Regions from separate parts of the Homo sapiens genome. Here regions 2, 3, 4 and 5 are each linked to region 1. The links come from fine-mapping of genetic effects on gene expression. A gene starts in region 1. Each other region holds a variant in brackets. All regions are shown on one strand. Distances are between the middles of the regions. Region 1 holds the start of PAX8 (paired box 8). Region 2 holds the start of PAX8-AS1 (PAX8 antisense RNA 1). Region 3 overlaps PSD4 (pleckstrin and Sec7 domain containing 4). Region 4 overlaps NT5DC4 (5'-nucleotidase domain containing 4). Region 5 has its middle 24 kb from the start of IL1B.

What was found.
Region 2: its variant is fine-mapped to the expression of PAX8 in whole blood (TOPMed, PIP above 0.99).
Region 3: its variant is fine-mapped to the expression of PAX8 in whole blood (TOPMed, PIP 0.96).
Region 4: its variant is fine-mapped to the expression of PAX8 in nucleus accumbens (GTEx, PIP 0.97).
Region 5: its variant is fine-mapped to the expression of PAX8 in testis (GTEx, PIP above 0.99).

Annotation. Positions count from the first base shown.
Region 1 is chr2:113,275,463-113,281,284 of GRCh38, forward strand. It overlaps PAX8 (paired box 8), which reads right to left and starts at 3,459. Exons shown (of 12, transcript NM_003466.4): 1 at 3,369-3,459; 2 at 2,908-3,007. The coding sequence starts at 2,932. RefSeq lists a promoter at 2,932-4,061.
Region 2 is chr2:113,233,401-113,239,222 of GRCh38, forward strand. It overlaps PAX8 (paired box 8), which reads right to left. Exons shown (of 12, transcript NM_003466.4): 8 at 3,201-3,321; 9 at 1,994-2,182. PAX8-AS1 (PAX8 antisense RNA 1) reads left to right here and starts at 2,869. Exons shown (of 6, transcript NR_015377.2): 1 at 2,869-3,222. RefSeq lists an enhancer at 1,766-1,955 and a silencer at 2,206-2,285. The variant C/G (reference allele first, on the strand shown) is at 2,408.
Region 3 is chr2:113,189,421-113,195,242 of GRCh38, forward strand. PSD4 (pleckstrin and Sec7 domain containing 4) reads left to right here. Exons shown (of 17, transcript NM_012455.3): 6 at 2,960-3,169; 7 at 3,628-3,708; 8 at 3,838-3,950; 9 at 4,172-4,230; 10 at 4,439-4,528. Among named protein-coding and RNA genes, the nearest start is that of PSD4, 18 kb to the left of the region's middle. The variant T/C (reference allele first, on the strand shown) is at 3,286.
Region 4 is chr2:112,729,461-112,735,282 of GRCh38, forward strand. NT5DC4 (5'-nucleotidase domain containing 4) reads left to right here. Exons shown (of 17, transcript NM_001393655.1): 16 at 167-244. Among named protein-coding and RNA genes, the nearest start is that of NT5DC4, 11 kb to the left of the region's middle. The variant C/T (reference allele first, on the strand shown) is at 3,135.
Region 5 is chr2:112,810,197-112,816,018 of GRCh38, forward strand. No RefSeq gene overlaps it. Among named protein-coding and RNA genes, the nearest start is that of IL1B, 24 kb to the right of the region's middle. RefSeq lists an enhancer at 1,417-2,616. The variant A/AT (reference allele first, on the strand shown) is at 3,363.

The sequences.
Region 1 (5,822 bases):
CTCAATTCTAAAACCAAGAGTTAGGAATGGGGCTTTAGATCTCACATCAGGGAAGTTAGAGACATCGTCCTCTGCCTTGTCTTATTTTACCACTTGAATGAACTATTTTCGGGACTGGTGGGAGTGGGCTGCGACAAGTTATTTAAGATAACTTTTAATGACAGCCAGCCTGCTTGCTTTTACAAAACTCTCTTCCTCATTGGTACAGTATTGTTTTCACTTTTATATATATGGGGCATTTATCGTTTCTTCTGCATCTTTGAATTTTTTTAAAAATGTTTTTGCTTTAGAGAATTTCGTCCCTGATGCAACAAAAATAGCGATTTTAAGGAACGTTCAGCCCATCGCTGACCTGCGCACGTTAAAATGATTCGCGTTCAACATTCCTGCAGAATAAAGCTGTAGGAAAGACAACGTTAAGACTCTCTGCAAGGCAAGACCAGCCAACGACGAGGCGACCCCGTGGCAGGCTGGGCGGCGGAGGCCGCGCGGGGAGGTTTTCTCGAGCGTCCCCGGTTATTGGGAAGGGTGCGCTCGGCCTCGCTCCCGCGGAAAGCCGTGTGGCCGCCTGCGTCCCGGGCTCTGCTCACAGAAAACTCAAGGGGAGCTCCCTAAGCACGGCCGGTCTCAGGAACAGAGGTGCCTGGGGAAAAGGGGGAACCTGCTAAAACCCGAGAGATAATGGGCTTGTAAAAACCAGAGGGGTCCGCTTATGAGTTTAGCTCCGGTTATAGACAACAGTGTCAGGTAAGCTGATCAGAAAGACAGACGGCCTCTCCCTCAGGTTTGCCGAGGGAGGGTTCAGAAAAGAAACAGGGAGCGCCTTCAGCAGTCTATGCGGTTATAGGCCATTTTCTTGTTTTATTAGCGTTTAAATTAAACTATGAGAAGAAAGTCTCATCTTCCCTCCCTCGCCACTTTGTCTATTTGTTTTGGAAAGAGGGTAGAAGAAGCCCCTCTGTCTTCCCGAAAAGAAGAAAGGGGAAAAAAATTACCTGGTAGGTCCAGGGGCAGAGGGCTCCCTCCCAAAACCCAAGCGCGATTTGCATCCAAGCTAGTGGGAAAGCGCGCATCTCATCATCTGGGACTGTTCCTGATTAAAACTACAGTAAAAATAAATTGTGCCTTTATTTATTCTTTCCATACTCTATTTCCATCTATTCTAACGAGTACTTCTAGAATGAAAATAAGTAGCCGCGAAAAAAAAAAAAAGCTCATCTGAGGGACGGGGACATCGTCTCATTTCTTGGGCAGCGGCAGAGAGTAAGGGTCCAGCCCGGCCACAGTGAATTTGATTTCCGAGAGCACTCACTCCTCCTGCCACCGCCGGAAGGGTCAGGGGAAGGTTAGGAGGAAAGATGGACCTCCAGAGCCGAGCAGAAGTGCCATTGCACCAGCTTGGCGCAGAAGTGCCATTGCACCAGCTTGGCATGGGCACCGGGCACTGCACATTAGGCCTCAGGGATGGTCCTGGCGATGTCTGGTATCGTACCACGGTTTGGCTAAAGATTAAGGGACTAAAACCTGATCCTGACCTTAGATAGTGGCCTAGGAGCGCTCGTGGTTCCAGGACGCGGACCGTAAAGAGGTGCCAGGGAGCTCTGCTCGGTCCCAGGGCTCCCCAACCCCGCCGCGCCGGGGAATGGCTGCGAGGTCTCTCCCCTGAGGACCTTGAAGGGACCCCGCGCCTTCTGGGGGCAGCCGGACGATTCTGGCCCAGGTCTCTGAGGGGAATGGGGGCCGGGAGGGAGCATTCGTCTGCAGCTCTAGAGAGAACCCGAGTGAGAAATCTTCCGGCGCCCCAGGGGGTTCCCGCTCCCCTCCTAGTTGGGCCATGGCCCTGGGACTGGAGACTGCGCCGCAGAGCCCGGGCCCCCGCAGTGCGCTTGGCTAAATAGAGATCTCAGCCTCGCTGCGCGCCCGATCCGACCCTCCTTATTATAACAAATGTCCCGTTTGCAGAGCGGGACATCATATTCGCGGAGAATTCATTCTGAAATATTGATTTCCTCTCACTTCGCCGGCCCAAATCGATAGCGATGCGCCCTGGCCCCATAAATCGCCTTCTCTGCGGCCGGCCGGGCTCCATCCATCACTGCGGGCCGCGCTGCGCCTCCACCGCTGTCCGCACTCGCTGCGCGCCGGGACGGCTGCGCCCACCAGCCCTGACCCTGGAGCTCCTTCCCAGCAAAGACCCTGCCCAGCCCTGGCCGGGAAGGGGGAAAACAGGCATCGCGGCCTGGGAGCTCGAGTGTGTTTGAAGGCCCTGCTTCCGGGCGCAGGTGGGGAGGGGGTTTTGACTCCGCGAGCGGCTTAGTCCTCACCAGCCGGACGCCCCGCGCGCGGCGCCCGGCCTGCCCGGTGCTGGGCCAGGAGGAGTCGGAGAGCACCTGAGTGCGCTGCCGGCTCCCGGGCCCGGGACCACCGGCTCCATTGCCGTTGGCTTGAGAGATGCGGGGAGCTCACAGTCCAGCCAGGGGAGTCACTGGGAAGGACTGCGCGCACCCGAGGAAGAGGACTTAGAGGTCGGGGACGGGGAAACGGCAAGTCCAGCACCGGTGCAGCCCAGGGACAGAGCACGAAGAATGTCCACACTAATGCGCCATGCAAGGCTGGGAATGGAGCTCAAAGGAAACCCCCTCTAACTCCACAGAGATCCCCTCACCGATCCATGTGGTCCCTCGAAACCGGGCAAGGGCGGCTCAGCTGGCCGGGTGGAACCCCAGTGCCCGAGAACAGCGAGGCGGCTCCAGCGGAGGGCCAGGCCCCAGGCGCCCCAGCTGGGTCCCCACGCGGGTGGGTCCCGCGAATCCCGTGCTGACGCTCTCGAGATCCAACCACCCGAGCGCACGCACGGACGCTCAGCGGCGCGGGGGCTCGGGGATCCTGACCACACCGCGTTCTTACCAGATCTGATGGAGTTGTGAGGCATCGCCGGGGAGTCGCTCGCAGCCCGCCGAGGGCTCGGGGCTTCCTCCCGTAGGTCCGGGCCGCGCCTGCCGCTGCCCTGCACAAACCCAGGAGAAGGGCATGAGATGCGATGAGATTCGATGCCTGCATCCTCAGGCCCCCTCCCCAGGCCTCATCCTTTACACCTGCATCGTCTGCCAGGAGTAGGAGGATTTTTAGGCGAAGTAGGGCCAACCTCAGCCTAGCCTAGCTAACAGGCTTCCCGGGAGGATCAAGGATTGGGAGTGCGCTGAAGAAGCTCCAGACTCCAACCTCCGTGCCCACTCCCTCCGCTGTCCCAGTCTTATCCCGTTTAACTTGGGAGGGAAAAGGCTGCCAGGCATCCTGGGACCCTCTCCTTTCTTCCATCCCCCGTCCTCACTGCTAGCCAGCTTCCAGCTAACCCCTGGGTGACATACCTGGCCGGCCGGCTGCAGGCCCTCACTGCTTGGGTCCGCCCGCGAGGGTGCCCTGGGCCCGGTGTCTCTCCTCCTTCTGAAGTTTGTTCCCATCCACCCGGCATCACCGACCGGTTTTATCCCGCTGAGGCCCTGGGAGATGGGTCTGGCGAGGCTCGTAGGCCGCGGATTGGCTGGCTGGGTGCAGGGGGGTGCGGGAAGGGGAGGATTTTGCAAGGGGGACATGGCTGAGTGGACTCAGGAGTTAGAAACATTCGCTGGGAGCTTCTGTTTCCAGCGGAGGGAAGAGGGAGGCAGCTGAGCCCTAACTCAGCAGGCCTGGAAATATTGGAGGAGTGGGGAACAGAGGCCTAGGAGCCTGAGGATGAGGTTCTCTGGGTCCTCCTGGGTCACTGACCACCAGAAGTGAGAGGGATGGTCTCTGTAGGATGCCCTCCTTGCCCCCTGTCTCCCCTGGTTTGCTCACCAGGAAGCAGCCTTTTCTTTTGTAAAAGGAAGGAGGGAACTTCTGTTTTATGCCTGATTCTTTAGGTAGAGCCTGCTTTCGGGGCTGTAGGCAAGATGCTATTACCTTCTCACCACAGCTATGACCTCTTCCAGGGAAGAATCCTGAGCAGCACCTGAAGCCATTCCCTCTGTTCTACACAGATAGCGTTCACACCCTTGCATTGTCAGGCTAACAAAATTGTCACATAACCCATTCCACAGCAACTCCTCGCCTCTCTCCTCTGGAACACACACGCAGCCACCTGCCCTCTTTCTTGCTCCTTGAGGATTTTGAACTTGGAAGAAGAGTTCAGGGGAAGGGCATTGAGGGCCTAGACTTCATCTCTGTGTGGAAAGGCCTTAGAAAGGAACAGGACTGAGCTGACCTCTGGCCTGGTCTGTAGGAATCAATAGCCTCAGCAATATGGGGGCCTGGGTGTGGTTAAGAAGGGGTCCACTGGTGGGAATGATGGCAGGGTTGGTGAGCCCTGGGACCGAGCAGAGCTGCCTGGCACCTCTTTACCTTAGTGATGGCAAAAGCTGCCCCCTCCTTCCTCATAGTTCTCTCAGTCGGGGAACCGGGGTACACGTAAGATTGTGAGTGGGTATGAGTGAGCAAATGTCCTGGAACACTGGCAGGCCTGGGGGTCAAGGCCTGGATGCTCCTCCAATCTTTGGCCAGACCTCTGGACTCAGGATTACAGTCTAGAGGACAGCCATGCCCTTTTCAGTGATGGCTCTGCAGGCCTGGTGGGGTTGTTCTGGGACAGGAGGCTAAGAAGCCAGTGGGAGGGGGGCAAGGAAGGTGCAGGGGAAACTGGGATATTCAGGGGGATTGGATGTGTGTGTGTGTGTGTGTGTGTGTGTGTGTATGCACATATGTACACGTGTGTGAAAACACATGAACTATTTTTCTGAATTAAAAAAGTTTTCTCTTTCATGTCAATCCACAACCTCCTTCCACCCAGTCTTTCTCATTTCTCAATTTAGGAGAAATGAATCATCTTGTGAAAAAAGAGAGAAGAAGATGTGTATCCCTACATGTTTCCTCCACATTTGCAAAGAGGGGCTGTAAACAAAAATAGTTGGTGCTTCATCATTTTAAATCTTTCTCTAAAATTGTAATTTTAAATATCTCTGTGGTTTTCAAAGCTCCAGATCCCTAACTTCTCTGGCAGTCCCTCCCAGAGAGAGACAATCCAAGGGTGTTGGGATGGAAATGGATCTTGGCATAGGTCCTCCGGACCCCATGGGCCAGTTTGCTGCCCTGGATTGTGTCCTGCTGCAGGGGAGGTGTGGAGTGTGGCAGCCACAGCAGAAACTCTCTTTGTCCACCCAGGATTCCCTCCCACCAGGGAGGCAATGCTCCAGGGTGAATCTAATACGCCCTCATTTCAAACAGCTCTGACAACCTTAGAGATTCTACCCAATCTAAGGTTCTGATACGTACCAATAACCATTGACTCTCATGCAATCATTCTTGCCTGTGCACATCTTTTCTGCCCAAGCAATGAACCCTCTCCCTTTCCTATCCCCTTTTTGGGCAAAATTTCTTAGAGGACAAATCCAGCAAGTTATCAGAACATTCCTGTCCCATGTATAAATTTATCTTTAAAATTTCATTTCAAGGTAAAAACAATGTGCACTGTTCAAGGTTACTCCTCAGGGAAAAACACACCCCACACCTTGACAGTACCTCTTCTCCAGACTGCAGGTGACATAGCAGGTGACCAGAAGACTCAGCAGAGAAGATCTAGGACGAGCAAGAAGTGAGAATGCAGTGAACTTCTGCTGCAGAGATAAACACAGGCCTCCTGGACTGACCCTGCTTCTAATTAGAATCAGAAATCAGGCCTGGGTTCCTTGGTACTTCCTAATTCTCTGAGACCAAGGCCAAGGAAATGTCATTAACTGGTGCTTTAACTCTGTCTCTTTGGCATCAGTCTCCTCCTCTGCAAAACGAAAGGT
Region 2 (5,822 bases), 42 kb before region 1:
GCTGGGTGCAGTGGCTCACACCTGTAACCCCAGCACTTTGGGAGGCCAAGGTGGGCGGACCAAGGTCAGGAGATTGAGACCATTCTGGCTAACATGGTGAAACCCCATCTCTACTGAAAATACAAAAATTAGCCGGGTGTAGTGGCGCCCATTTGTAGTTCTAGCTACTCGGGAGGCTGAGGCAGGAGAATCACTTGAACCCAGGAGGTGGAGGTTGCAGTGAGCTGAGATCGCGCCACTGCACTCCAACCTGGGCAACAGAGTGAGATTCCATCTCAAAAAACAAAAAAACAAAAAAAAAAGGGTCCAGGGACTTTTATCACATGACCCTGTGGTTACTCTGGGCTTGTAGAGGTCTTAATCCTCTGGTGCAGTGGTTTCGAAGTCCAAGGGCTTTCTAGGGGCAGGGACCCCTTCTAAAAGAGCAGTTCTTCAGGGGTCTGGTGAGCATACATGTCTTCTGTAAAAGGCTTCATTTCAAGAGAGCATTGAGAGGCCCAAATTTGAAACCACTGGTCCAGATGGACTGTCTGACTCTGGGCTGCCTCTGTGACAGGTCTCACACACCCCACCCACGCACTGGTCTCTGCTCCAGCATTTCAAGGTCGTCGGGGTAGGAGGGTGTGGGAGGTGAAGAGGCATTTACTTCTGTCACTAAATACCCACACTCCTTGGAGACAGTGCCGCTATTAAAGAGATTCCTCCAATGCTGAACTGAGAGCTAGCTGGCTTCCTTCCCTGGTCCTGGGCCCCCACTGGGCCCACATCTAAAATAGTCCTATCCCTGTGGAAGCCCTTGAGGTATCTGAAGACCATATGGGTCTCTGCTTCCCACTTTCACTGCATCTCAGGCCCTCTCCAACCCAAGCCAAGCGCTTGACTCTCAGCCATTCCTCAGGCCCTGGCTGGATGAGCGAAGGTCCTTCTGCCAGGAGGAGCCAGCTCCCCTTGAGGTCTGACTCATGCAGTGCAGGCCCAGGCCTCAACCAGCTACAGATGGTGCTCCTGCCCAGAGACCTTGGCAGGGACCTTCTCCTCCCTGGGCCAGGTTCCTCATCAGCATAAGAGGTTTGATCTAGAGGCTCCCTCAGGTGCTTCCAGATTTACTTATTTTTATTTATTTGTTTTTTTCTTTTTTGAGATGGAGTCTTGCTCTGTCACCCAGGCTGGAGTGCCATGGCGCCACCTCAGCTCACTGCAACCTATGCCTCCTGGGTTCAAGCGATTCTCCTGCCTCGGCCTCCCCAGTAGCTGGGATTACAGGTGTCTGCCACCACACCCCCTAATTTTTTGAATTTTAGTAGAGATGGGGTTTCATCATCTTGGCCAGGCTGGTCTTGAACTCTTGACCTTGTGATCCACCTGCCTCGGCCTCCCAAACTGCTGGAATTACAGGGGTGAGCCACCTCGCCCGGTCGGTGCTTCCAGCTTTAAATATTTTGAGGCAGTTGAGGTTCCTGATGGGAGGTCCCCCACTCCTCTCAAGTTGTTGAATCACTGAATTTATCATGTTTAACAGATGTCTGACTGTCCTCCCGGTGATGCTGTTAAGCTAGGAATGAAGATAGCTGCATCATGGAAACACAACTGGGACTGACCCTTGGCCTTTTTAGAAATTTGATCCAGAAATGGGCTCCAAAAGCCAATTCCTTTTTCCCTCCAAAATGTTCATTTTTCCTTCTATCTATTTATGCATTTACCAAGGCCAAGTTGCTACGTTACAGCACCCGGCTCCCGGCCTTAGGGTTCCTGCTTTTCCATGGGGTCTTGGGGTGGTGCATCCCCGGCACCCCTACAGCATCCGCCCCTTCCGAGCATGTCTTCCCCGTCACAGAGAACTTCATGTTGGCGCCTCCAAAAGTTGCCGGAGGAATTAGGGAACAGGGTGGGGGTGGATGAGACTGAGGCCAGAGAGGGGGCTGGCGGTCTGCCCTGAGGACCCCCGTCCCACCCGCCGCCATAGCTGCATGGCCCCGGGACCTCCCTGTCGTACCTGAGAGGAGGGCCTGGCCCGTGAACTGCCCGTACACGGAGGCAGCATGGGGAAAGGCATTGAAGGGCGGGACCCCGGAGCCGACTTGCTGCAGATCCAAAAAGGCGGAGCTAGATAAAGAGGAAGGGGTGGAGCTAGAACTGGACACCTCGGGGGTTTCCTGCTTTATGGCGAAGGGTGAGTGAGGATCTGCCGGAGGGAGGGAGACAACAAGGAGAGAGGGGTGTGAGATGGCGGGGAGGGAACACGCACAAGCCAAGCCGTGGGATGTGGAGGGTGCGGGCGGGGCGCGGGGCAGGCTCAGCTGCCCTCAGAGTCTGGGCTGGGGAGAGCCGGGGCCCACGAGGCGTGGCAAGGCGGGGAGAGAGAAGCTAGACCTCCCTGCTGCGCTTCTGCAGCGAAAATGGAGAGACC[C/G]GGAAGGCGTGTGTGCGCCCGCCTCTCCCACAGGAGGGAGCGCGGAGACCCGGGAGCGGCCTAGGACCGGAGGCGCGACCCCTCGGCCCACCTTGAGGCCCGGCCTAGGACCGGAGGCGCGACCCCTGGGCCCACCTTGAGGCCCGGCCTAGGACTGGAGGCGCGACCCCTCGGCCCACCTTGCGGGAGCCGCCTAGGACCGGAGGCGCGACCCCTCGGCCCAGCTTGAGGCCCGGCCTAGGACCGGAGGCGCGACCCCTCGGCCCACCTTGCGGGAGCCGCCTAGGACCGGAGGCGCGACCCCTCGGCCCACCTTGAGGCCCGGCCTAGGACCGGAGGCGCGACCCCTGGGCCCACCTTGAGGCCCGGCCTAGGACTGGAGGCGCGACCCCTCGGCCCACCTTACGGGAGCCGCCTAGGGCCGGAGGCGCGACCCCTCGGCCCAGCTTGAGGCCCGGCCTAGGACCGGAGGCGCGACCCCTCGGCCCACCTTGAGGCCCGGCCTAGGACTGGAGGCGCGACCCCTCGGCCCACCTTGAGGCCCGGCCTAGGACCGGAGGCGCGACCCCTGGGCCCACCTTGAGGCCCGGCCTAGGACTGGAGGCGCGACCCCTCGGCCCACCTTGAGGCCCGGCCTAGGACCGGAGGCGCGACCCCTGGGCCCACCTGGCGGCCCGGCCGGCACAGCCCGCCTCTCCTCTCCAGGCCAGGGCCCCACACCTTCCGCCTGACAGCCAGCCAAGCTCTTCAGTCCCCCGCCCTCCACCTGCCAGGGAGGCTCCGGGCGTTGTACCTGCCACCACGGGGTAGGTCTGGTGAGTCGAGAGGTTGCGCCCCAGTGGCGTGTTGGAAGGGGTCAGGGTGGCCTTCCCGTCGTCCAGGGTGCTGTTGAGCAAGGGCAGCGGGTAGAGGCCCTGGGGAGCAAAGAGAAGTCAGCGCACAGAGACGATCCAACAAGCCGACCTTCCTGCAGACCCTGAGCCTGTGTCTTAGGACTTGGCAGCCCTCATCTCCCCAGGAGAGGTCCTCATCGCCCCCTTCTTCCTTTACGTTCTCAACTCCACTCGGCACGTTTCGTTCATGCTCATTGTCCTCCCGCATCCCTGGAATTCAAGGCCAGCTGGTAGCATGGGTGCCCAGACGTGGGATAGAGAGTCTCAGCCAGAGGACCACACCCTGGTTGGATGGCTGGTCGGCTTCCTGGTTTCACCACACTGTTGGGACCCACAGAATGCAGGACGGTGCCAAGGACTGGAGCAGTCTCCAACCGGACTGTTCAGGGTCCTTGCATCTGTTAATTTATTCTTCCCCAGATAGGAAACCCAGGCACAAAGGTTTAAGAAACTTGTCCCACTTCCAGATGGGCCAAAGATAGGATTCAGATTCGAGGGATCAGAATGTGTCTGCTCTCAACCACTGCCCTAAACTGGGTGACATAAGGACCACTTCTTACATTTGCAAAGAGCTTATATCAGAGCTTTGCCTCTGTTGTCCTAGTAGAGTCCCCCAGCAGCCCAGTGACATGGGTGAGTAATATTATGTCTGTGTTTTATATGTGGAGCCTGGAACTCAGGTAAATGGCCCAATTTTGTATAGTGAAACAGACTAAACCCGGGATTTTTCGGCTGTGGACCCAGGTGCTTTACCCACCACGTGGATTTCTTCTTTTCTCTCTCCACATCCAAACAAATAGAAGTGTGCAAGTTCGGCTTGAAAATGGTATTGAGAGTTGTTTTTGTTGGAAACACTCTTTGTCAAGTACCTGGGGGTCTTCATCAGTAAGACCTCATTTTAGATGCCTCCTGGCCTCCCCTTCCCAGGAGCACAGCTATGACCTTAGGTACTCCTTCCGAAAAGAACTTGTTTAACTAAAGGTAAGTGTACCTCATCCTCACCATGGCCTCCTTCCACTGGGGAAGCAGATAGCGCAGAAAAAAGAACACACCCATTCCCCACATACCTTCACACTCGTCACATACCTGCTACGTGAGATGTGCAAAGCTGAATTCAGGGAATGCTCAGTAGTTACATAACAGTGCCACTAAAGGCAATTGTTTTCAGTGATTTCCATCGAGCTGGGTTCTGCAAAGATCCACAGCACTTTCCGGTTGCATGCTGGGCACTTTTGGAAGCTGCAGTCAATTCTGGAGGCCACCAGGGCACCATTAGCACATAGCAGCAATTATTGACTAAATGGTGCTCTGGTTCCATGCCTTCCAAGGGGGCCCACTTAGAGGCAGGGTGGAGTTGCTTAGGGCCTTTTTTTTTTTTTTTTTTTGTAGACGGAGTTTTGCTCTTGTTGCCCAAGCTGGAGTGCAATGGTGCGATCTTCGCTTACTGCAACCTCTGCTTCCTGGGTTCAAGTGATTCCCCTGCCTCAGCCTCCCGAGTAGCAGGGATTACAGGTGCGTGCTACCATGCCAGGCTAATTTTTTGTATCTTTAGTAGAGACAGGAGTTTCACCATGTTGGCCAGGCTAGTCTTAAACTCCTGACCTCATGATCTGCCTGGCTTGACCTCCCAAAGTGTTGGGATTACAGGCATGAGCCGTTGCACCTGGCCAGGGTGTGTCTTATTGAAATTGAACAAAATACCTAATTTCTAGAGCGTATAAGAGAAGTTTAAAATGCTTTATGGATGTGTTGTTTTGACAGCAAAATATCTACTCAGAATCCTATAGCTATTTCAAAATCCAAGTAACTTAGAAAAAAAGGAAAAAGAAAACCTATATAGTCAAATCTTTTGGTGATTTTGTATTCAATGACTGAAACTTCCCAGTGATTATTGGGCTTTTTAGCTGGAATTGAACTTGAATCGGGGCAGAGCAGCACAATGCTTCAGAACTTCAGCGACTCTGAGCCCTGGTTCTGCAATGACCTGCCAAGTAGCTTTAGTCTACTTGACTGCTCTGAACCTTAATTTTCTCACCTGTATGGGAATCATAGACTCTACTTTATGAGGCTGACGTAAGCATTACATGAAATTTTGTATACTTATACATAATGTGCTTAGCACCGAATACTTGGTGACAGCAGATGCCCAATGAGAGTTATCACAGATATTATTTCAGAATCGTGAAGAGTCAGAAGCCACCAAATTCTTGATTTCTGTCAATAAACTGATATTCATATTCTGTTGATTTTTTTTGATGCATTTGTAAAATAGGGAAACAAGAGCTGTATGACTTCTAGCTATGTCTGGTCATGAAATAGCAACCAGGAATAAGGCCACATGATGTTTCTGATGAACACTTCCCCCTGCCCTTTTTTTTTTTTTTTCAGATGGAGCCTCGCTCTGTCACCCAGGCTGGAGTGCAGTGGCACAATCTCGGGTCACTGCAACCTCCGCCCCCCAGCTTCAAGCGATTCTCCTGTCTCAGCCTCCCGAGTAGCTAGGATTACAGGTGCACGCCACC
Region 3 (5,822 bases), 86 kb before region 1:
GTGGGTTGGTTCCATGCTTTTGTGATTGCAAATTGTGCTGCTATAAGCATAAGCATGTGTATGCAAGTATATTTTTCTTATAATGACTTATTTTCCTCTGGGTAGATACCCAGTAGTGGGATTGCTGGATCAAATGGCAGTTCTACTTTTAGTTCTTTAAGGAATCTCCACACTGTTTTCCATAGTGATTGTATGAGTTTATATTCCCACCAGCAGTGTAGAAGCGTTCCCTATTGACCTCATCCATGCCAACGTCTATTTTTTGATTTTTTGATTATGGACATTCTTGCAGGAGTCAGGTGTTATTGCAGTGTGGTTTTGATTTGCATTTCCCTCATCATTAGTGATGTTGAGCATTTTTTCATATATTTGTTGGCCATTTGTATATCTTCTTTTGAGAATTGTCTATTCATGTCCTTAGCCCACTTCTTGATGGGATTATTTGTTTTTTTCTTGTTGATTTGTTTGAGTTCATTGTAGATTCTGGATATTAGTCCTTTGTCAGATGTATAGATTGTGGAGATTTTTTCCCACTCTGTGGGTTTTCTATTTACTCTGCTGACTGTTCCTTTTGTCATGCAAAAGCTCTTCAGTTTAATTAAGTCCTGGCAATTTATCTTTGTTTTTATTGCATTTGCTTTTGGTTCTTGGTCATGAAATCCTTACCTAAGCCAATGTCTAGAAGGGTTTTTCCAATGTTATCTTCTAGAATTTTTATAGTTCCTGGTCTTAGATTTAAGTCCTTAATACATCTCGAGTTGTTTTTTGTGTAAGGTGAGAGATGAGGATCCAGTGTCATTCTCCTTCTTGTGGTTAGCCAATTATCCCAACACCATTTGTTGAAAAAGTGTGTCCTCCTTGTGGCTAGCCAATTATCCCAACACCATTTTTTGAAAAGTGTGTCCTTTCCCCACTTTATGTTTTTGTTTGCTTTGTTGAAGATCAGTTGGCTGTAAATTGTACACTTTAAATGAGTGAATTGGGCGGTATGTGAATTCTATTTCAAAACAGCTGTTATTATTATTATTTTTTTGAGACAGGATCTCACACTGTTGCCCAGCCTGGAGTGTGAGGTACAATCATGAATCACTGAAGCCTCAGCCTCCCAGGCTCAAGTGATCTTCCCACTTCAGCCTCCCAAGTAACTGGGACCACAGGCGTGTATCACTACACCCAGCTAATTTTTACTTATTTTTATTTTTTATGGAGATGTGGTCTCACCATGTTGCCCAGGCAGACCACAAGGCTGGTCTCCAACTCTTGAGCTCAAGCAATCCTCCCACCTCGGCCTCCCAAAGTGCTGGGATTATAGGCATGAGCCACTGCACCCAGCCTGTTACTGTTTTTAATGGCCTTTATGATCTTACTGTGAAAATCAAGGATGAATGCAAGATGTCTTATCCAGCCAGAAAACTTGTGCTGGGAAAATTAAATTTTAGGCATTGTGTTTACTATAAGATTTAAATAAACTTATTTGTACATTTACCAAGATAAAGCTCCAAGTAAACCTTTTCATTATTTACTATGAAAGTATGTTCTCATTTTAGTTAGATTTAGTTACTTCTATTTTGGGTTGGGTGAACTTTAATTTTTGGCATGAAGAAACTTCCCTTTTCAGAGGCTGGAACTTCTCTGGCTACCAAGCCTCTGAACCTCTCCACGGGGCAGCCTAGTTTCCAGATGCATAAGGAAGATGGTTCTTTGGTTTCTGGCACTGATTGACATTCTGTCACCATCACCCAAAGACCTTGTGATGGGCATGGGGTTAACCCTCCCATTAACCCTGACCCAGCTGTGTTAGATAGTGAGGGTGTTTAAGTGAATTCTAATGTTATATATCTGTTTATCAGGGATTGTTTTCTTTTTTTTCTTTTAGACGGCATCTTGCTCTGTTGCCCAGGCTGGTGTGCAGTGTCACAATATCAGCTCACTGGAATTTCCGCCTCCTGGGTTCAAGTGATTCTCCTGCCTTAGCCTCCTGAGTAGCTGGGACTACAGGCATGTGCCACCCTGCCTAATTTTTGTATTTTTAGTAGAGACAGCGTTTCGCCATGATGGCCAGGCTGGCTTCGAACTCCTGGCCTCAAGTGATCCACTTGCCTTGGCCTCCCAAAGCAGTAGGATTACAGGCTGAGTACTGCGCCCAGGCCCCTGGAATGTTTTCATATTATGATGTCTTCTGCTTACCAGTTCAACTTCCTAATTGTATCACTTGAATAATGAATGTTTAAATAACTGGAATACCCCACACTTGATTGTAATGTTGTCGGGGAAGCAGAAGAGTCAGGTTTAGATTGGATTGAGTGACATCTGAGAGTCTTAGTGCTGGACTGGGAGGTTCTGAGTCGGCTGGGGGTCACCCAGGCCTGTTCACACTAGGTCATAGGTCACCACTCAGTCTCCTTGTCATCCAGGCTGCTAGGTGGGGGAAGGGAGAGGCTGAGGACCACCTCCTGAACTACCCCAGCTGCTGCCATTACTAGAGCCCACCTAGCTTCCTGTTCTCAGCTCATCCTTACAGGTTTCTTGGCTCCAGATCTAGGAGTGGAGGCTAGAGCCAGAGCTGGGAGGTGGGGAAGGGACAAGGAGGTACAGGAGGACCACAGGACAGGTGAGGGAGACAATCCCACGTGCCTTGCATTGGAGAAAACAACGCTAGGGGCCTCACAGGGATGCACCTGCCACCTGAGGTGAGATAAACTCGGAACATGGCTGTGCTTTACCTGAGAAAGCGCAGGACCCCAGACCTGGAGACCTTGCATGAATACCTTCCTCTCGGGGTTCTCCTGGTCCCAGGCCAGGCTAAGTCAGTCTGGCTGTGACTCTGTCTCTTCCCTGAGTAAGGGCCTGGGTCCAGCTCCTCCGGGCCCCACCATTCAAGGCGCTGAGCTCGGGGAACTCTTGCCACAACTGACCTGCAAGAACACTTGACCCAGAGCTCCTGCATGTCTATCTCAAGTGAGAATCTGAGGACACCGATGAACTCTTCTTGGCTTCCTGGGAGCCCTATGCCCCAAGCACAGTCCCCAGAGGAAGGCCAGAGACCACCAGCTGGAGACAAGCTAGCTAATGGCGTCAGGAACAACAAGGTAGCCTGGAACTTGGCCTCACGCCTCTATCGCCTGGAGGGCTTCCGGAAGTCTGAAGTGGCTGCCTACCTGCAGAAGAAGTAAGGGGCTTTGAGCCTGGGGAAGGCTGGAGGCTGAGGCAGCCAGGGAGGAGCTGCTGAAGGGCTCCCTCCACTGGCCACCCTCCCCTTCCCGTCCCTGCCCTGTTCCCTTCCCA[T/C]CTCCCCTCCTAACTTTTCCCCCATACCCTCACTGTATCTGCTGCTTACTCTCAGTCATGGTCCTCATGCTCTCCACACCCTTGGTCCTTGGTCCCCACTGCCTTGCCAACCAGACTCCACAGGTCTCTCCCAGTGTCTCCCAGTGTACACTGAATAGGGTAGCAGGGCATACCAGACCCTGGCTGCCCCCTTGCTCTGTCAGGACCCAAGGCCCAGCGTGCCTGCACCCTTCCCTTGCTCACCCCCACCGCATAATGTGTGCAGGCCCTGGGGGCCCCAGTGCATCTGCAGCCCCAGCCCAGGCCCCTGGTGCAGACTCCATGCCCCTTTTCCCTCTGCAGCAATGACTTTAGCAGGGCTGTGGCTGAGGAGTACCTGTCCTTCTTCCAGTTTGGAGGCCAGAGTCTGGACCGAGCCCTCCGGTAATGTCTTTGGGCCCTCTCTGGGGAGGCTGTGGAGGATGGCATGGGGCAGTGGCACCAGCCTGAGGCTGGGATCTGATTGGCCCTAAGCTCCCGGGCTCTCTCCTTGACCCTGGCCCTCCTTTGCAGGAGCTTCCTCCAGGCCTTGGTGCTCAGTGGGGAGACTCAGGAACGGGAGCGAATCCTCTACCAGTTCTCCAGACGCTTCCACCATTGCAATCCGGGGATCTTCCCCTCAGTAGGTAGGGAGGGGCTGGCCCTGACAGCAAAGCAGGGAAACTTTGGGGTGCCCATGTCTGCTTGGGAGTTCAGTAGGTGACAGTGAACTGGTGGGAGTGTGTTGGGGGCTGTGGAGAATGGAAGCATTCCAGGGGTTATTCGGTTACCCCACGCAGTGTGGGCAGAGGAAACAGGAGCCCTGGTTCCAATGAGCTTTCTCTCCACTTACCTATCTCTGGGGTAGATTCTGTACACACCTTGACATGTGCAATCATGCTGCTTAACACGGACCTGCATGGACAGGTAAGACGGTGGAGAGAGTCCCTGTGGGAACTGAGGCTGTAACAAGGGGTGCGGGGAGGAGAAGACCAGAGGCCTGAGACCGGGCAGGGAACACCCCTGAGGGATGTGGGCCTGGGGAGCTGGAAAGGGTTCCATGGTTGCTGGCTGGGAGGTTATTCTATTGGGATGGGGTGTGTGCTCGAGTCATCCCACTTCTCCGTGGCTACAGAACATTGGGAAGAGCATGAGCTGCCAGGAATTCATAACCAACCTGAATGGGCTGAGGGATGGCGGGAACTTCCCCAAGGAGCTGCTGAAGGTATGTGCCACGGGGTCTTCTTATGAGCCTCATGTAGGACCTGGAGCCTTGGTTCTTTGTTCCAAGGGAGATGCTGAGCTTGGGACTGGCTTTGCCAAAATATCCTTGAGAGAACAGGACTTGTTTATTGAAGGGCTAGTAAAAGTGTATTCCCTGGCGGGCAGCATCAGAAGCATCTTGGAATTTGTTATCCATGCAAATCTGCAGGCTCCCTGTGCTGGACTTATTGAATCAGACTCTCTGAGACTGGGACCCCTAAAATATTTTCTTAAGTTTTCAAGTCATTCTTACCCCTTCAAAGTCTGAGAAGGGCAAAGCTACACATGGTGAAAGTCTGGAGCTCAGACTTGGGAGCCTGGTGTTCCTGGGTTTGAATTCTAGTCTTGGGCAATTTGCCCCCTCTTGGCCAACTCAAGTTCTTCCTGAGAGTATTAACCACTTACCATGCCATTATCAAGATGAAATGAAATCTTCCAAGTGCTCAGCACGGTGCTTGGCACATAGCATGTGTGTCATAAGCAATTAAAATCATTTGCTGTTTCATCACAGTCACGCATCACTTAACGATGAAGGTGTGTTCTGAGAAATGCATCGTTGGGCATTTTCACTATTGTGTGAACATTATAGAGTGAACCTACACAAACCTAGATGTACAGCTCACTGCACACCAGGGCTATATGGGATAGTCTATTGCTCCTGGGCTACAAACCTGTATGGCATGCTGCTGTACTTAATACTGCAAGCAATTCTAACACAGTGCTGTATTTGTATATCTAAACATAGAAAAGGTACAATAAACACATGATAGAAAAGATTAAAAATGATACATCTGTATAGGACAGCTCCATCACAACCTTACAGGACCACTATCATGTATGCAGTTCATCCTTGACTGAACCATCATGATGCTGTTATATGGTACATGGCTGTACTTCATGAACATTTACTGAACACCTACTATGTGCCAGACTTTTTGCTAGGCACCGCAAGAGCTATAGAAGCAAGCGAGATAACATCTACGTTAATATGTCAAACTTTTAGTGCATCATTCATTCATTTACTGCACATTTATTGTGGGGATTGGTCAGCCAGTTTCTTCTCCATCAGATCCCTCCCAGTAGAATGCCATGTAGGTAATTCATTTCTCCTCCATGAGAACTAGTTAAGGCCTCAGTAAGCATGGGCAGGACAGGGACTTGTCTGCCCTGGTCATCATCTTTTTTTTTTTTTTGAGATGGAGTCTCATCCTGCACTGTCGCGGGAGTGCAGTGGTGTGATCTTGGCTCACTGCAAC
Region 4 (5,822 bases), 550 kb before region 1:
GAACCTTCCTGCCCCTGCTGACCTTCCGAGGTTCCTTCCTCTGCAGCAACATCGTTGGGCAGGAAGTTGGCAGCTGTGGGCAGGGGAGCCTGTGCATAGCTGAGGAATCCTGGAAGGCCGTACCCGGGACGGAGTGCTTCACCTCCACCTGCATTTATCCCTACAGATGCCACATGAGTCAGTTGTGGAGCAAGAACAGGCCAATCTAGACCCTGCCTCCTGCCTCCTCTCCTGCAACCAGAGGGTGAGTGGCTGTGGCCGACGAACTCTGTGGCTTGGGGTCCCATGGGCTAGAGTAGTGGTTCCCAGTGGGGTTGTATCAACCCCAGGACGCATGAGGCAATTGGTGGGGGGGCTTGTGGGCTTGTTTTTGTCTGCAAGCATAGTCATTCCTCATTATTTATGTAAAAATGCGTATTATTTTATTGTAAAATGCTTTTCTCTTTATTTCTCCTTTGTTAGAGTATTATCTTGATACTTTAAATTATAGAGATGATAATTGTATCGATGAATTTCAATTCAGGATGGAAAAGTAGAAGCTAAATATTTGTTTTTAAAATGGGATATTGGAGCCAGGTGTGGTGTTTCACACCTGTAATCCCAGCACTTTGGGAGGCTGAGGCAAGTGGATCACCTGAGGGCAGGAGGTCGAGACCAGCCTGGCCAACATGGTGAAAACCCGTCTCTATTAAAAATACAAAAATTAGCTGGGCATGGTGGTGGAAGCCTCTAGTCCCAGCTACCCGGGAGGCTGAGGCAGGAGAATCACTTGAACCCAGGAGGCGGAGGTTGCGGTGAGCTGAGATTGCACCACTGCACTCCAACCTGGGCAACAGGGAAAGACTGTCTCAAAAAAAAAAAAAAAAAAAAAGCGACAGTTGGATCCAAAAGGGCGACAGGTTCTGCTCAGCAGTGCTTTGTGCACTGTTGGGCCCTGCACCCCTACGGACTGCTGTTGGCCAATCCATACACATTATTCCCTCCAGGGGAAGTTGCAGGATGTGCCCTCTTCCACATTGAGGCTTCCTCCCCAGACAGGCTTTGTTAACATTAATGACTAGTGGCTCTAGCTTCAGATCCCTTTGACACTTTGTGAGGCTTGACCCGCGTCTGAGCTGAGACAGGAGTGGATGCCTGGATTCCTCGTTGGGTTCTGCACCCCCAAAACCCTGCATAAATGTTCCTCTTTCTCCCTTGGCTTTCTGGGGGCTCACTTTAAAAGATGTGTATCCCATAGGTCCCCTTTAGCTGGGTTGTACCAGGCACAGTGTTTGTTCTTTCAACCAGTATTTACTGAGCACCTCCTGTGTGCCGGGCAGTTTAGAAAATAAAGTGTAAGTTACTTCATTCCTGCCTAGGAGAAGCTCAAAATTCAAGTGCATTCACAGGCTTTAATCAGTGGTTGGCAACTGTTTTTCTATCCTAGCCCAGCAGAGAGATGGACACACTCCTGTCAGTAACAGAGGCTTGCTGGGGAAGCCTGTGGTTTGATCCCTCTATATCCTCACCCCATCAGGATCCAGCCTAGGGCATTTTGACACATTATCTACCCCTGGTTGGGCGTCACTGTGTGAGCTTGGGAAGAAAATATCCATAGTCACTTTCTGTGTTTCTTATAAGGGTTAGGGCAAAGAGAGAAACGAGGATCAGGAAAGTTACATCGAGGCTGACGGAATCCTGGACATGGGCTGGCATCACGGGCCATCTTCTACTTGAGATATTTTTCAGATAACACAAGTATGGAAAAAGGAAAAAGCAACTGTATTGAAATCTCCTAAATGCAGCAGATTTGGAGCCTGCAAACACTTCTTTTAGGGAGGAGGCAGTATTGCTCTTAACCTAGAAGGCATCCTCAATGGTCTTTGAGACGTTTGGAAACGTGTGCACAAGTGAAATTATTTTACCTACTTCTCTTGAACGCATGATGTCTCATATCCAATTTTATTTCTAAACATTTCTTTTAAAAAATAGTTATTTCTGTGCACTTCTGATTCTGTTACTAGTAAGAACAGTAAAACCTGATTGGCTATATATTGCCTCACTAACTGCTCTTTCATTCTGGGTCACTACGAAAGATGTTAAATGAGATAGCCCAAATGTCTTTGAGTTTGTGTATACACATTAAAACACATAAAAAGTCATACTCATGATTTTAAAACTTGACTCTCGAATGTGTTAGAAGCTTCTCTGTGGTATTAAAGTGCTGAAGCATCATTGCTCTGATGTCACTGATTTCAGTTTACTCCTACAGTTTACTTTTTGTCTGTTAGTGGTATCATCTGGCATTCTGTGGAGACCTAGGTTGAATCTGCATGTTTGAAATGACAAAGTAAACCCTTGAAGGAACAGGTCTGAGGACACACTTCATTAGCTTCATTTTCTGTGGATAAACAATGGCAACACTTAGATACCTGAGGATAAATAAGGGACAACGGGCCATGGAATCAGAGAGTTTACTTTTTTTTTTTTTTTTTTTTTTTGAGACAGAGTCTCATTCTGTCACCCAGGCTGCAGTGCAGTGGCACGATCTCGGCTCCACCTCCTGGGTTCAAGCAATTCTTCTGCCTCAACCTCCGAGTAGTTGGGATTACAGGCATACTCCACCACACCTGGCTAATTTTTGTATTTTTAGTAGAGACAGGGTTTCACCATGTTGGCCAGGCTGGTCTCAAATTCCTGACCTCAAGTGATCCGCCTGCCTCGGCCTCTTAACGTGTAGGGATTACAGGCGAGAGCCACCGAGCCTGGCATTTTTTTTTTTAAAACATCTTCTTTGCATTTCAGAAGCTTCCAGGTTTGACACTGCCAAGGCCTTTTCTTCCTTTCCCTGGTTTGACTTTCAGGTCCCAGAGCCTGCAGGGGCAGGTTCTCCAGTAAATCCCAGGTCTCACTGGCCTGTGTCTTTACAGGGGCAGGTTCTCCAGTAAATCCCAGGTCTCACTGGCCTGTGTCTTTACAGGGGCAGGTTCTCCAGTAAATCCCAGGTCTCACTGGCCTGTGTCTTTACAGGGGCAGGTTCTCCAGTAAATCCCAGGTCTCACTGGCCTGTGTCTTTAAACGCTTGATTCTTAGTCAAGAGCTAAAGGATAGTATTTATCAGAAAAACTGCTCAGACCCTAGAGCCCATACTTTTC[C/T]GGAAAGGTCCTGAAATATAGTGTGGTAGCTAACACTACAAAAGTCAAATCTCAGAATTCCTACCCAGGGTAGAGAGGATACAGAAAAGGACTGAGGGATAAACAATCTGGCAGAAATGCTTTAGGGGATCCTAGCGAGGGAAAGGAGAGAGGTGGCCAAAGGGCCTTTCTTGTGCTTTTCCTATGTCTGGCCCATTCCCTGCCTCTTCTCCCTGTTACCTCCGCTCTCCCCTCAGCGAAGATCCCTGACTAGACCAGTTTCTCTTTAGTCCCTCGCTCATAGGCCTCTATTTCTCAGGACTTGGAGTCTTGCATTTGTGGTTCCTAGATTAACACGTGTCCTCACTAGACTCTCAGCTCCAAAAGGTAATGTCCTTTTGGCTCACCGTTGTGTCTCTGGCATCTACGTACCTGTGTATTTTATTGAAAGACACATGTCACCCAGTTTATTATTACTCTTGTAGAACTGCAGGGAAAGGGCAGGACAAAGAATATGAGAAAAAAGAAAGTGGAGAAAGGATATAGGGCTTTGGATTAGAATGCTACCTCCTACCCAGACACATTCATGAGAAAACTCATATCCTTAGACAAACTCCTAATTCTGTATCTGTCCTACCTCATGGGTAGGAGGTAGGACAGATACTTCTATTTGGGTAGTTTTTTTTTTTTTTTAAACTTAATGTCACCTCTACACTCCTGTTTTATCTATACCTTAGGGACAGAAGCACACCATTGCTTCCAAGACTGTGTGCAGACACTGACATTCATCTCCCATTTCTGGAAGAATTTTTAGCTGGGCATGTGGCCATCTGATACACATTTCCCTGCTTCTTTAGATGGGGTGGGAGGGGGGGACATGGGACCAAGTTCTGGCCCCTAAATTCTGGACAGAAGTAATGGTCCAACTTCCAATCCGTGACCTCAGGAGGGGCATACCTTCCCGTTCCTCTCTTCCCCCTTCCAGCTGGCTGGAGAGTGAAGTTGGGTGGGAGCCTTCTTTGGCCACATGGACGAGGCTGCCTCCAAGGGATGGTGGAGTCACAAGACAGACATAGGCTGGGCTTGGCAGTAGATTAGCATTGGGCTGTCACTTGGATGGCTGATGTGAGAGAGATGCATTTCCATTTGGGACTAGTGACAGCAGCTGAACTGACATCCTCATTCTGGCATCGTCTTGAGCAGTCAGGAAATGAAGAGAACAGAAGCAGCATCTCTGTGGTAGTGAACTAGTGGTAAAAATGTGATCATTTATTTGTAGAATAAATGACAGTACTTTGGCTGTCACAGTGATTCCTGCTTGGTAAACTGGGAACAGTTCAATAATTTATCTTGCTCAGATGTGTTTCCTTATCATCACCTTAGTCCTCATTTCCTTACTTTAAATAGAGATAGGAGTTAAAAGTTCTGAACCTGGAGCCAGACAGCCCTGACTTTGAAATTGCAGGACTGACATTTATTAACTACTCTATTTCCATAACCATGTCATAAAGCTATTATAAGGATATAGTGAGATAACGGACATGGAGCTTGGCCAGAGTAAGCACTAAATAAGTGTTTTCTATGCTATTATATATATGTGTGTGTGTGTGTGTGTGTGTGTGTGTGTGTACATTAGTCAGGATTTTTTCTTTAGCAACTGAAGGAAACCTAATGAAACTGGTTTGAGAAAAAACAGAATTTATTGGTTCATATAACTAAAAAGTCCAGGGTTAGCCCAGCTCCAGGCATAGCATTAACCAGGGAGTCAAATCAATGTCATTGGACATAGCTTGCTCTCTCCAACTCTCAAGTTTATTCCATGTTGGTACTATTCTCTGGCAGGTTTTGTCCATGAGGTTATAAGATGGCTGTTCCCAAACTCCAGATTTCTATCTTTATCTTTTCAGCAACTCTACCAGGAAGCATCTTTCTAATGAAAGTCTGGGAAATGATGCCTCACTGGTTGTGACACTATCCCATCCTCCAATCAATGCCACTGGCCAGGGAGATGCCAAGTTTGGCTTTGCCAGGACTGGGTCACATGCGCATACTGGGGTTGAGTCCATTCTTCTTAACCATGTAGATTGTCAGCAGGAAATGGGTGGTAGTAGGGAAATTGGGGTGCTTTTTTTGTGAGACAGAGTCTTGCTCCGTCGCCTAGGCTGGAATGCAGTGGTGTGATCTCAGTTCACTGCACCCTTTGTTTCCCGGGTTCAAGTGATCCTCCTGCCTCAGCCTCCCAAGTAGCTGGGACTACAGGCACACTCTACCACATCTGGCTAATTTTTGTATTTTTAGTAGAGACAGGGTTTCACTACGTTGGCCAGGCTGGTCTTGAACTCTTGGCCTCAAGTGATCTGCTCACCTCGGCCTCCCAAAGTGCTGGGATTATAGGCGTGAGCCACCGCACCCAGTCTGGGGTGCTTTTATTGGAAAAGGGAGTACATGCCAGGGAGGCAAGAACATTTTTTTTTTTTTTTTTTTTTTTGAGACTGAGTCTTGCTCTGTCACCCAGGCTGGGATGCAGTGGCATGATCTTGGCTCACTGCAACCTCTGCCTCCCAGGTTCAAGCAGTTCTCCTGCCTCAGCCTCCTGAGTAGCTGGGATTACAGGTGCGTACCCCCACGCCTGGATAACGCCTGTATTTTTAGTAGAGACAGGGTTTTGCCATGTTGGCCAGGCTGGTCTCAAACTCCCGACATCAAATG
Region 5 (5,822 bases), 470 kb before region 1:
CGAACTCCTCGCCTCAAGCAGCCCTCCCTCCTTGGCCTCCCAAATTGTTGGGATTACAGGCATGAGTCATGACTCCTGGCCTAGTTTACATTTTCTAGAGTTTTGTATAAATGGAAACATACAGAATGTATTTTTTTGCGGAGTGGGGGAGTGTTTCTATTTCTTTCTTTCTTTTTTCTTTTTTTTTTTTTTTTGAGACGGAGTCTCGCTCTGTCTGTTGCCCAGGCTGGAGTGCAGTGGTGCGATCTCGGCTCACCGCAAGCTCCACCTCCCGGGTTCAAGCAATTCTCCTGCCTCAGCCTCCTGAGTAGCTGGGACTACAGGCGCCCGCCACCACACCTGGCTAATTTTTTTTGTATTTTTGGTAGAGACGGGGTTTCACCATGTTAGCCAGGATGGTCTCGATCTCCTGACCTCGTGATCTGCCCGCTTCGGCCTCCCTAAGTGCTGGGATTACAGGCGTGAGCCACCGTGCCCGGCCCAAGTGTTTCTATTTCTTAACCAGCTTTCATGCAATCTTTTTTTATTTTACCATCTCTGTGATCCCACTCCCAAAGGTACTAGATGTCGATTGGTCCTTAGGATCAGCTACCATTTGCCCAACTGCTTTCCAGCCTTCCAAAAATTTTTTTCTTTTTTTCTTAAAGATACTCCTGTGTGAGGCTCAGAACTCTTGAATTGCTACTGCAAATATGAACTCGGTGATGTGAATGCCAGGGAATTGCCTGATTGATCAAAGAAATGTATCCCCTTCTCCCTCACTCTTGCTGTCTTCTCATTTGTTTTCCCCATCCTTGTGGATTCGTGAATTTAAATATCCCTTTAATGTTATAATATTTTAATGGCGTTTGGCGAAAAGTACAGAATTAGGTGCAAGAGTGCATAGCTGTTATTTTTTTTTTTGGCCTCTGAGACTGTTCATATATGCAAGTTATTTAACAGAAAGTTCTGCAGTGACCTGAGATGTCAGGGGGGTCTGATAGAGTACGTTTGAAGGCAGTTACTGGAAAAAAATAATGCCATTTCTGGTTTGTACTTCGGTAAGTTCAGATGACCCAATATATTGTTTACATGTGGCATTCAGTAAAAAAGTAGCTTCCCCTCCCTTTCTTCTTCCTTTTCTCCTTTCCTGCTTCTATAAAGCATCTGCTTTGGGAAACTTCTTAGGAGGAGAGCTTGCCAGCCCGTGGGTAATGGAGAGGTCTTGCAGAGATAAAAGAGATGCTCCCACTCAATGCAGGATGGTGTGGAGGTAAATGGGGATATGTCTGGCATCACTCAGGAATGGGCCTTCCTGGCAGGGAAGAGAAGGGAGGGGAAAGAGGAAGGGAGTCAAAGATGAATTGCTGAATACGGGGATTCCAGGGCCTGGAGCCAGGAAGAGAACTTTGGGAGGTGTGAACCTGGAGGGCATCAGCTGATGAGGAGCAGCCTGAAGTCCGGGGAGGACCTGTTTTTGGTGGCCAGGAAGAAAGTGCCTTCCACACACAGGGAGGCCACAAGGCTGATGGGCTGGGGGTTGGAAGGACAGCCCTAGGACAGGCTTGGGAAGCAGGCTCAGGTAGGGACTGTGAGGTTCTTGTTGAGTCTTTTTCATTCCTGGTCTTAGAAAATAGAATCCAAGGCCTCTTGAGAGTGGAAGGTGGGTTGGGAGGAGGGCAGATGGGGCTTAGGCCCAGGACACCCGTAGAGCTACTGCCCAGCTGTCTCTCAGGGACTCTGCTGAGGTCACTCCAAGGATCATTCTTAGCCTTGCTAGACAGTACTGACAGAGGGAACCGTAGTATCGCACCCACTTCCTTCTCTTTCAATGAAAGTTTAAAGGTCACCATTTCCTCTGGCAAAGGAAGTTCCACAAATATTCCATTTCCGGTCTTAGAAACAGCAAGGTATCAAGCAATTGCAAACTTCCTGTGCTGGGGAATTCCCAAGGAAGTAGGGGCAGAGTTCTGGTGGAGACAAAGTGAATTCCGAGTGATTAGTCAGTAGCAGTAGCAGTAGCAGTAGCAGTAGCAGTAGCAGTAGCAGTAGCAGCAGCAGAACCAGAATTTCCCCGCACGTGTCTCAGGCTCTCATTTGCCAACTCAGTCTCTAAGTATTTTTATTGGCAGGAAAAATAAAATAGCTATGAGTGAAATAATTCATTAGACCTGAGCCTCCATCAATTTTGTGTTTAAAGGCCTGACTCTCTTTACCTTTCCCTGGGATGGAAGATGCAAATGTTCCTGATGTCACTGTCAAAAAAGAAGAACCAGTGGGTATATTGTATGCTTGAGTTCCAGCCATTTGTCACAATAGATAGAGATGACTGCCATGTGTGTAGACTTTCTATAGACTGTGTGCTAAACCCGACCTGCCACTTCCAAGGAGTAGATGAGGAATGTCCATGGTTCTGGGGAGCCCTACCCCAATTTGGGGCAGACATTCCAAAGCTCATTTTCTGTGGAGGGGGTTGATGGTTAAAGGACGGCCTGGGAGTAACTCGTCTGTACTAGGGCCCAGGAGAGTTACATGCTGCTTCCCATGTTATTCATCATTCCCCCATGTGAATAGCTATGGCGTGAGGTCCAAGGTTAGGGCCTTTCTACCATAAATGGGGGAATAAAATTCCCCTACCAGCCTGAGAAGTTTCTGTTATAAAGAGGCCTTTTTTTTTGCGGGGGTGGGGGAGCAAGCCGACTAATGTGTTATTTCCATACGGTTTGTTTTAAAATGTAGACGTCATATGCAGGAGAGGTGGTGTAGTGAGTCACAACGGGATTAGAAGGACCAGTCCGAAAAGCAGAAGAGGGTCAAGTTCAGGGCACGGAGGACTACTGCATTCAGTGGCGTGAAAGGCAGATGGCTGAACAGGAGGGGGACATTACATTGCTTGTTCTCCTTGAGCCTCGATTTCCTCATCTAAAAAGAGGGTCATTTATTCACAGAACATTTATTAAACTTGTGCCAGGCACCGTGCCAGGAGCTGGACTAAAAATTAAATCCACCCCTGTGAGCTGCTCTGAAGGCTAAAATATGAAGTATGTAAAAGTAACCAAGTGCTGTACACATGCAGCTATTCAATGACTGTGTGGGCATTGCGGCAGATTTTAATTTTCTTTTTTATTTCTTTCTCTTTAGTGAGAGGTGTTGGTTGTTATTATTGTCGTCGCTGTAACTGTCTATTTCACTTGCTTTTTTGTTGCCTCCAGCCCATTCCAGGGCTGTCATCTAGGACACTTCTTATCACCTAAATAACCGGGGAGGCAAAGCGCTTTCTTAAGAGATGGATCCAGAAGAACAATGCTGGTTTTCTGTACAAAAAGGGGCTGTGGGAAGTAGAGATAAGAAGGGAATTGGCCAAGATGAATGTACAGAGCCTT[A/AT]TTTTTTTTATAACACAGCAAGATTAGATACAAAACAGGACAATAGCATCATCTGTTTTTATAACTGGAAAGGACCTCACTTTACAGGTGGGGAAGAATAGAGTGGAGAAGTGAAGAGAATGGTCACAGAGTCAATCAGCATGTCTGCGTCAAAGCTGGGATTCCCGATTCAGGGCTCTTACTACAGTGACGTATGGCTAATATTTTGGCATTGTTTCGGGGAAAAGCTGAAGCCCTGATGGTGTACGTCACTCTTGAGATAGTCTGTAGTCCAGCAGGGAGGAAAGCAAGGAAGGGAGGTGGAGGCAGCATTTTTGGGTGTAACATTTCGTTCTTGTTTTGTGGCCAAATCATAGTGTGATTGGGACAAGCCACTGCCTTTCTCTGAGCCTCCACTTTCTTTTTCTTCTTAAGAGGGAGGGAATAGTAGAGTAAAAGTAGTCATTTTATCAAACACCTGCTATTTTGGAGCCATATTGCAAGTGGGTTGGGGGTTGAACAGTTGGCTTTATTACCCATAGGATTAAATCCAACCTCGATACTGTGGCATTCCCAAACTCCAGTCTAATCTTCTTCTCCATCAGCCATGCCCCACGACACCCTGGTCATATCTGATGTTGCCCCTTGCACTTGCCCCCTCCTTATCTTTGCTTTCTGACCTACCATATGGCTATTGGTTGAAATTCTCATTTTCCAGGGCCTTGCTTAAATATCATCTCATCCATTAAAACTTTCTTGAACCTCCCCTTGCCCTGTTCCTCCCTAATGTCTCAAGCCAGAATTTATTTCCTTTTGTGGCCAAGGGACTGGGTTTGTGACCTCTCTCACGAGACTTAATATTGAGACCAAACGTCTTTAGACCTCACCAGCCAGAGAGATGAGCATCTATGGAATGCAGGCTTTTGCCTGGACTTGCTGATGCAGGGCCTCTGCCTTCCTCCAGGGCCTCTCCTGCTGTTTTAGGAATTTCCCTCATGGCACAGTCCATGAGCTCAGGGTCAAGTTCATACATGTTTTTACTTCTTCTACTCTGCAAATGGTCTTCTTGAACTCTGAGGGTCCTAAAGCTGCTCTGCAGTTTGTGGGGTGAGTAGAAAGGGGCTTTCAAAAGTTGTGCTGTTGTTTCCCACCCCAATAGCATGAAACACAAAGATGCTTACAAATAGCTGCCTTGCTTTCTAGTCCCAACTTCTCTCTCCTGAGGCTTTAAAACAAGTCCCCTAGGTTGAGCTGGACTGGAGTTGTATCCTATCTTCATTATCTGTCTACTCTCTTTCTGCTCTCTAGAGAAGATATTATATATGTGTGTATGTATGTGTAAATATATAATATCCATATATAGAACATATATTGTTATATTTACATATACATACATAACATATGCATGTATTCATATATACATATGTAGTATCAAAGTTGGAATTAAACTGTATATTTTGTAATTTGCTTTTATTTGCATCTATCACTGTAAAATGAATATTTATCCATACCGTAAGATATTCTTCAATGTATTTTTTTTTTTTTTGAGACAGGGTCTTGCTTTGTTGCCCAGGCTGGAGTGCAATGACCCGATCTTGGGTCACTGCAGCCTTGACCTCCCCGGCTCAAGTGATCTTCCCACCTTAGCCCTCTGAGTAGCTGGGACTAGAGGTGTGTGCCTCCACACCCAGCTTTTTAATTTTTTTTGTATTTTTTTTTTAGAGACAGGGTTTTGCCACATTGCCCAAGCTGGTCTTGAGCTCCTGGGTCCAAGCAATCCTCCCACTTTGGCCTCCCAAAGTGCTAAGATTACAAGCATGAGCCACCACACCTGGCCTCAATGTAATTTTTAATGGCTGTATAGTATTCCATCATGTGGTTGTACCCAAAATTATTTAACCAGTCCCCAGTTTATTTCAATTTTTTTTTACTATTTTGAATAATGTTTTAGTAAATACCCACAAAATATGTACAATGGCTGGGCTTAGTGGCTCACCCCTGTAATCCCAACACTTTGGGAGTCTGAGGCAGGTGGGTCACCTGAGGTCAGGAGTTCGAGACCATCTTGGTTAACATGGTGAAACCCCGTCTCTACCAAAAATACAAAAATTAGCCGGGTGTGGTGGCACACACCTGTAATCGCAGCTACTTGGGAGGCTGAAGTAGGAAAATCACTTGAACCTAGGAGGCGGAGGTTGCAGTGAGCCGAGATCACACTACTGTACTCCAGCATGGGCAACAGTGAGACTCCATCTCAAAAAAAAAAAAAAAAAAAAAAAAGTACAATTTGTTGTACCTCCCTGATTATTTCTTTTAAGTAGAATTTTCTTATAATTTTTTTTATAAGTAAAATTTTGAATCAAGGGAGAAGCACCTGGAGTCCTTCAGATACCTATTGCCAAACTGAACTTTTCTGTTCCAGGTTTACTACATTCAGCCTGACTCAGGGTTTGGGGAGTAGAGGAGGGGGTGGAGGCAGAG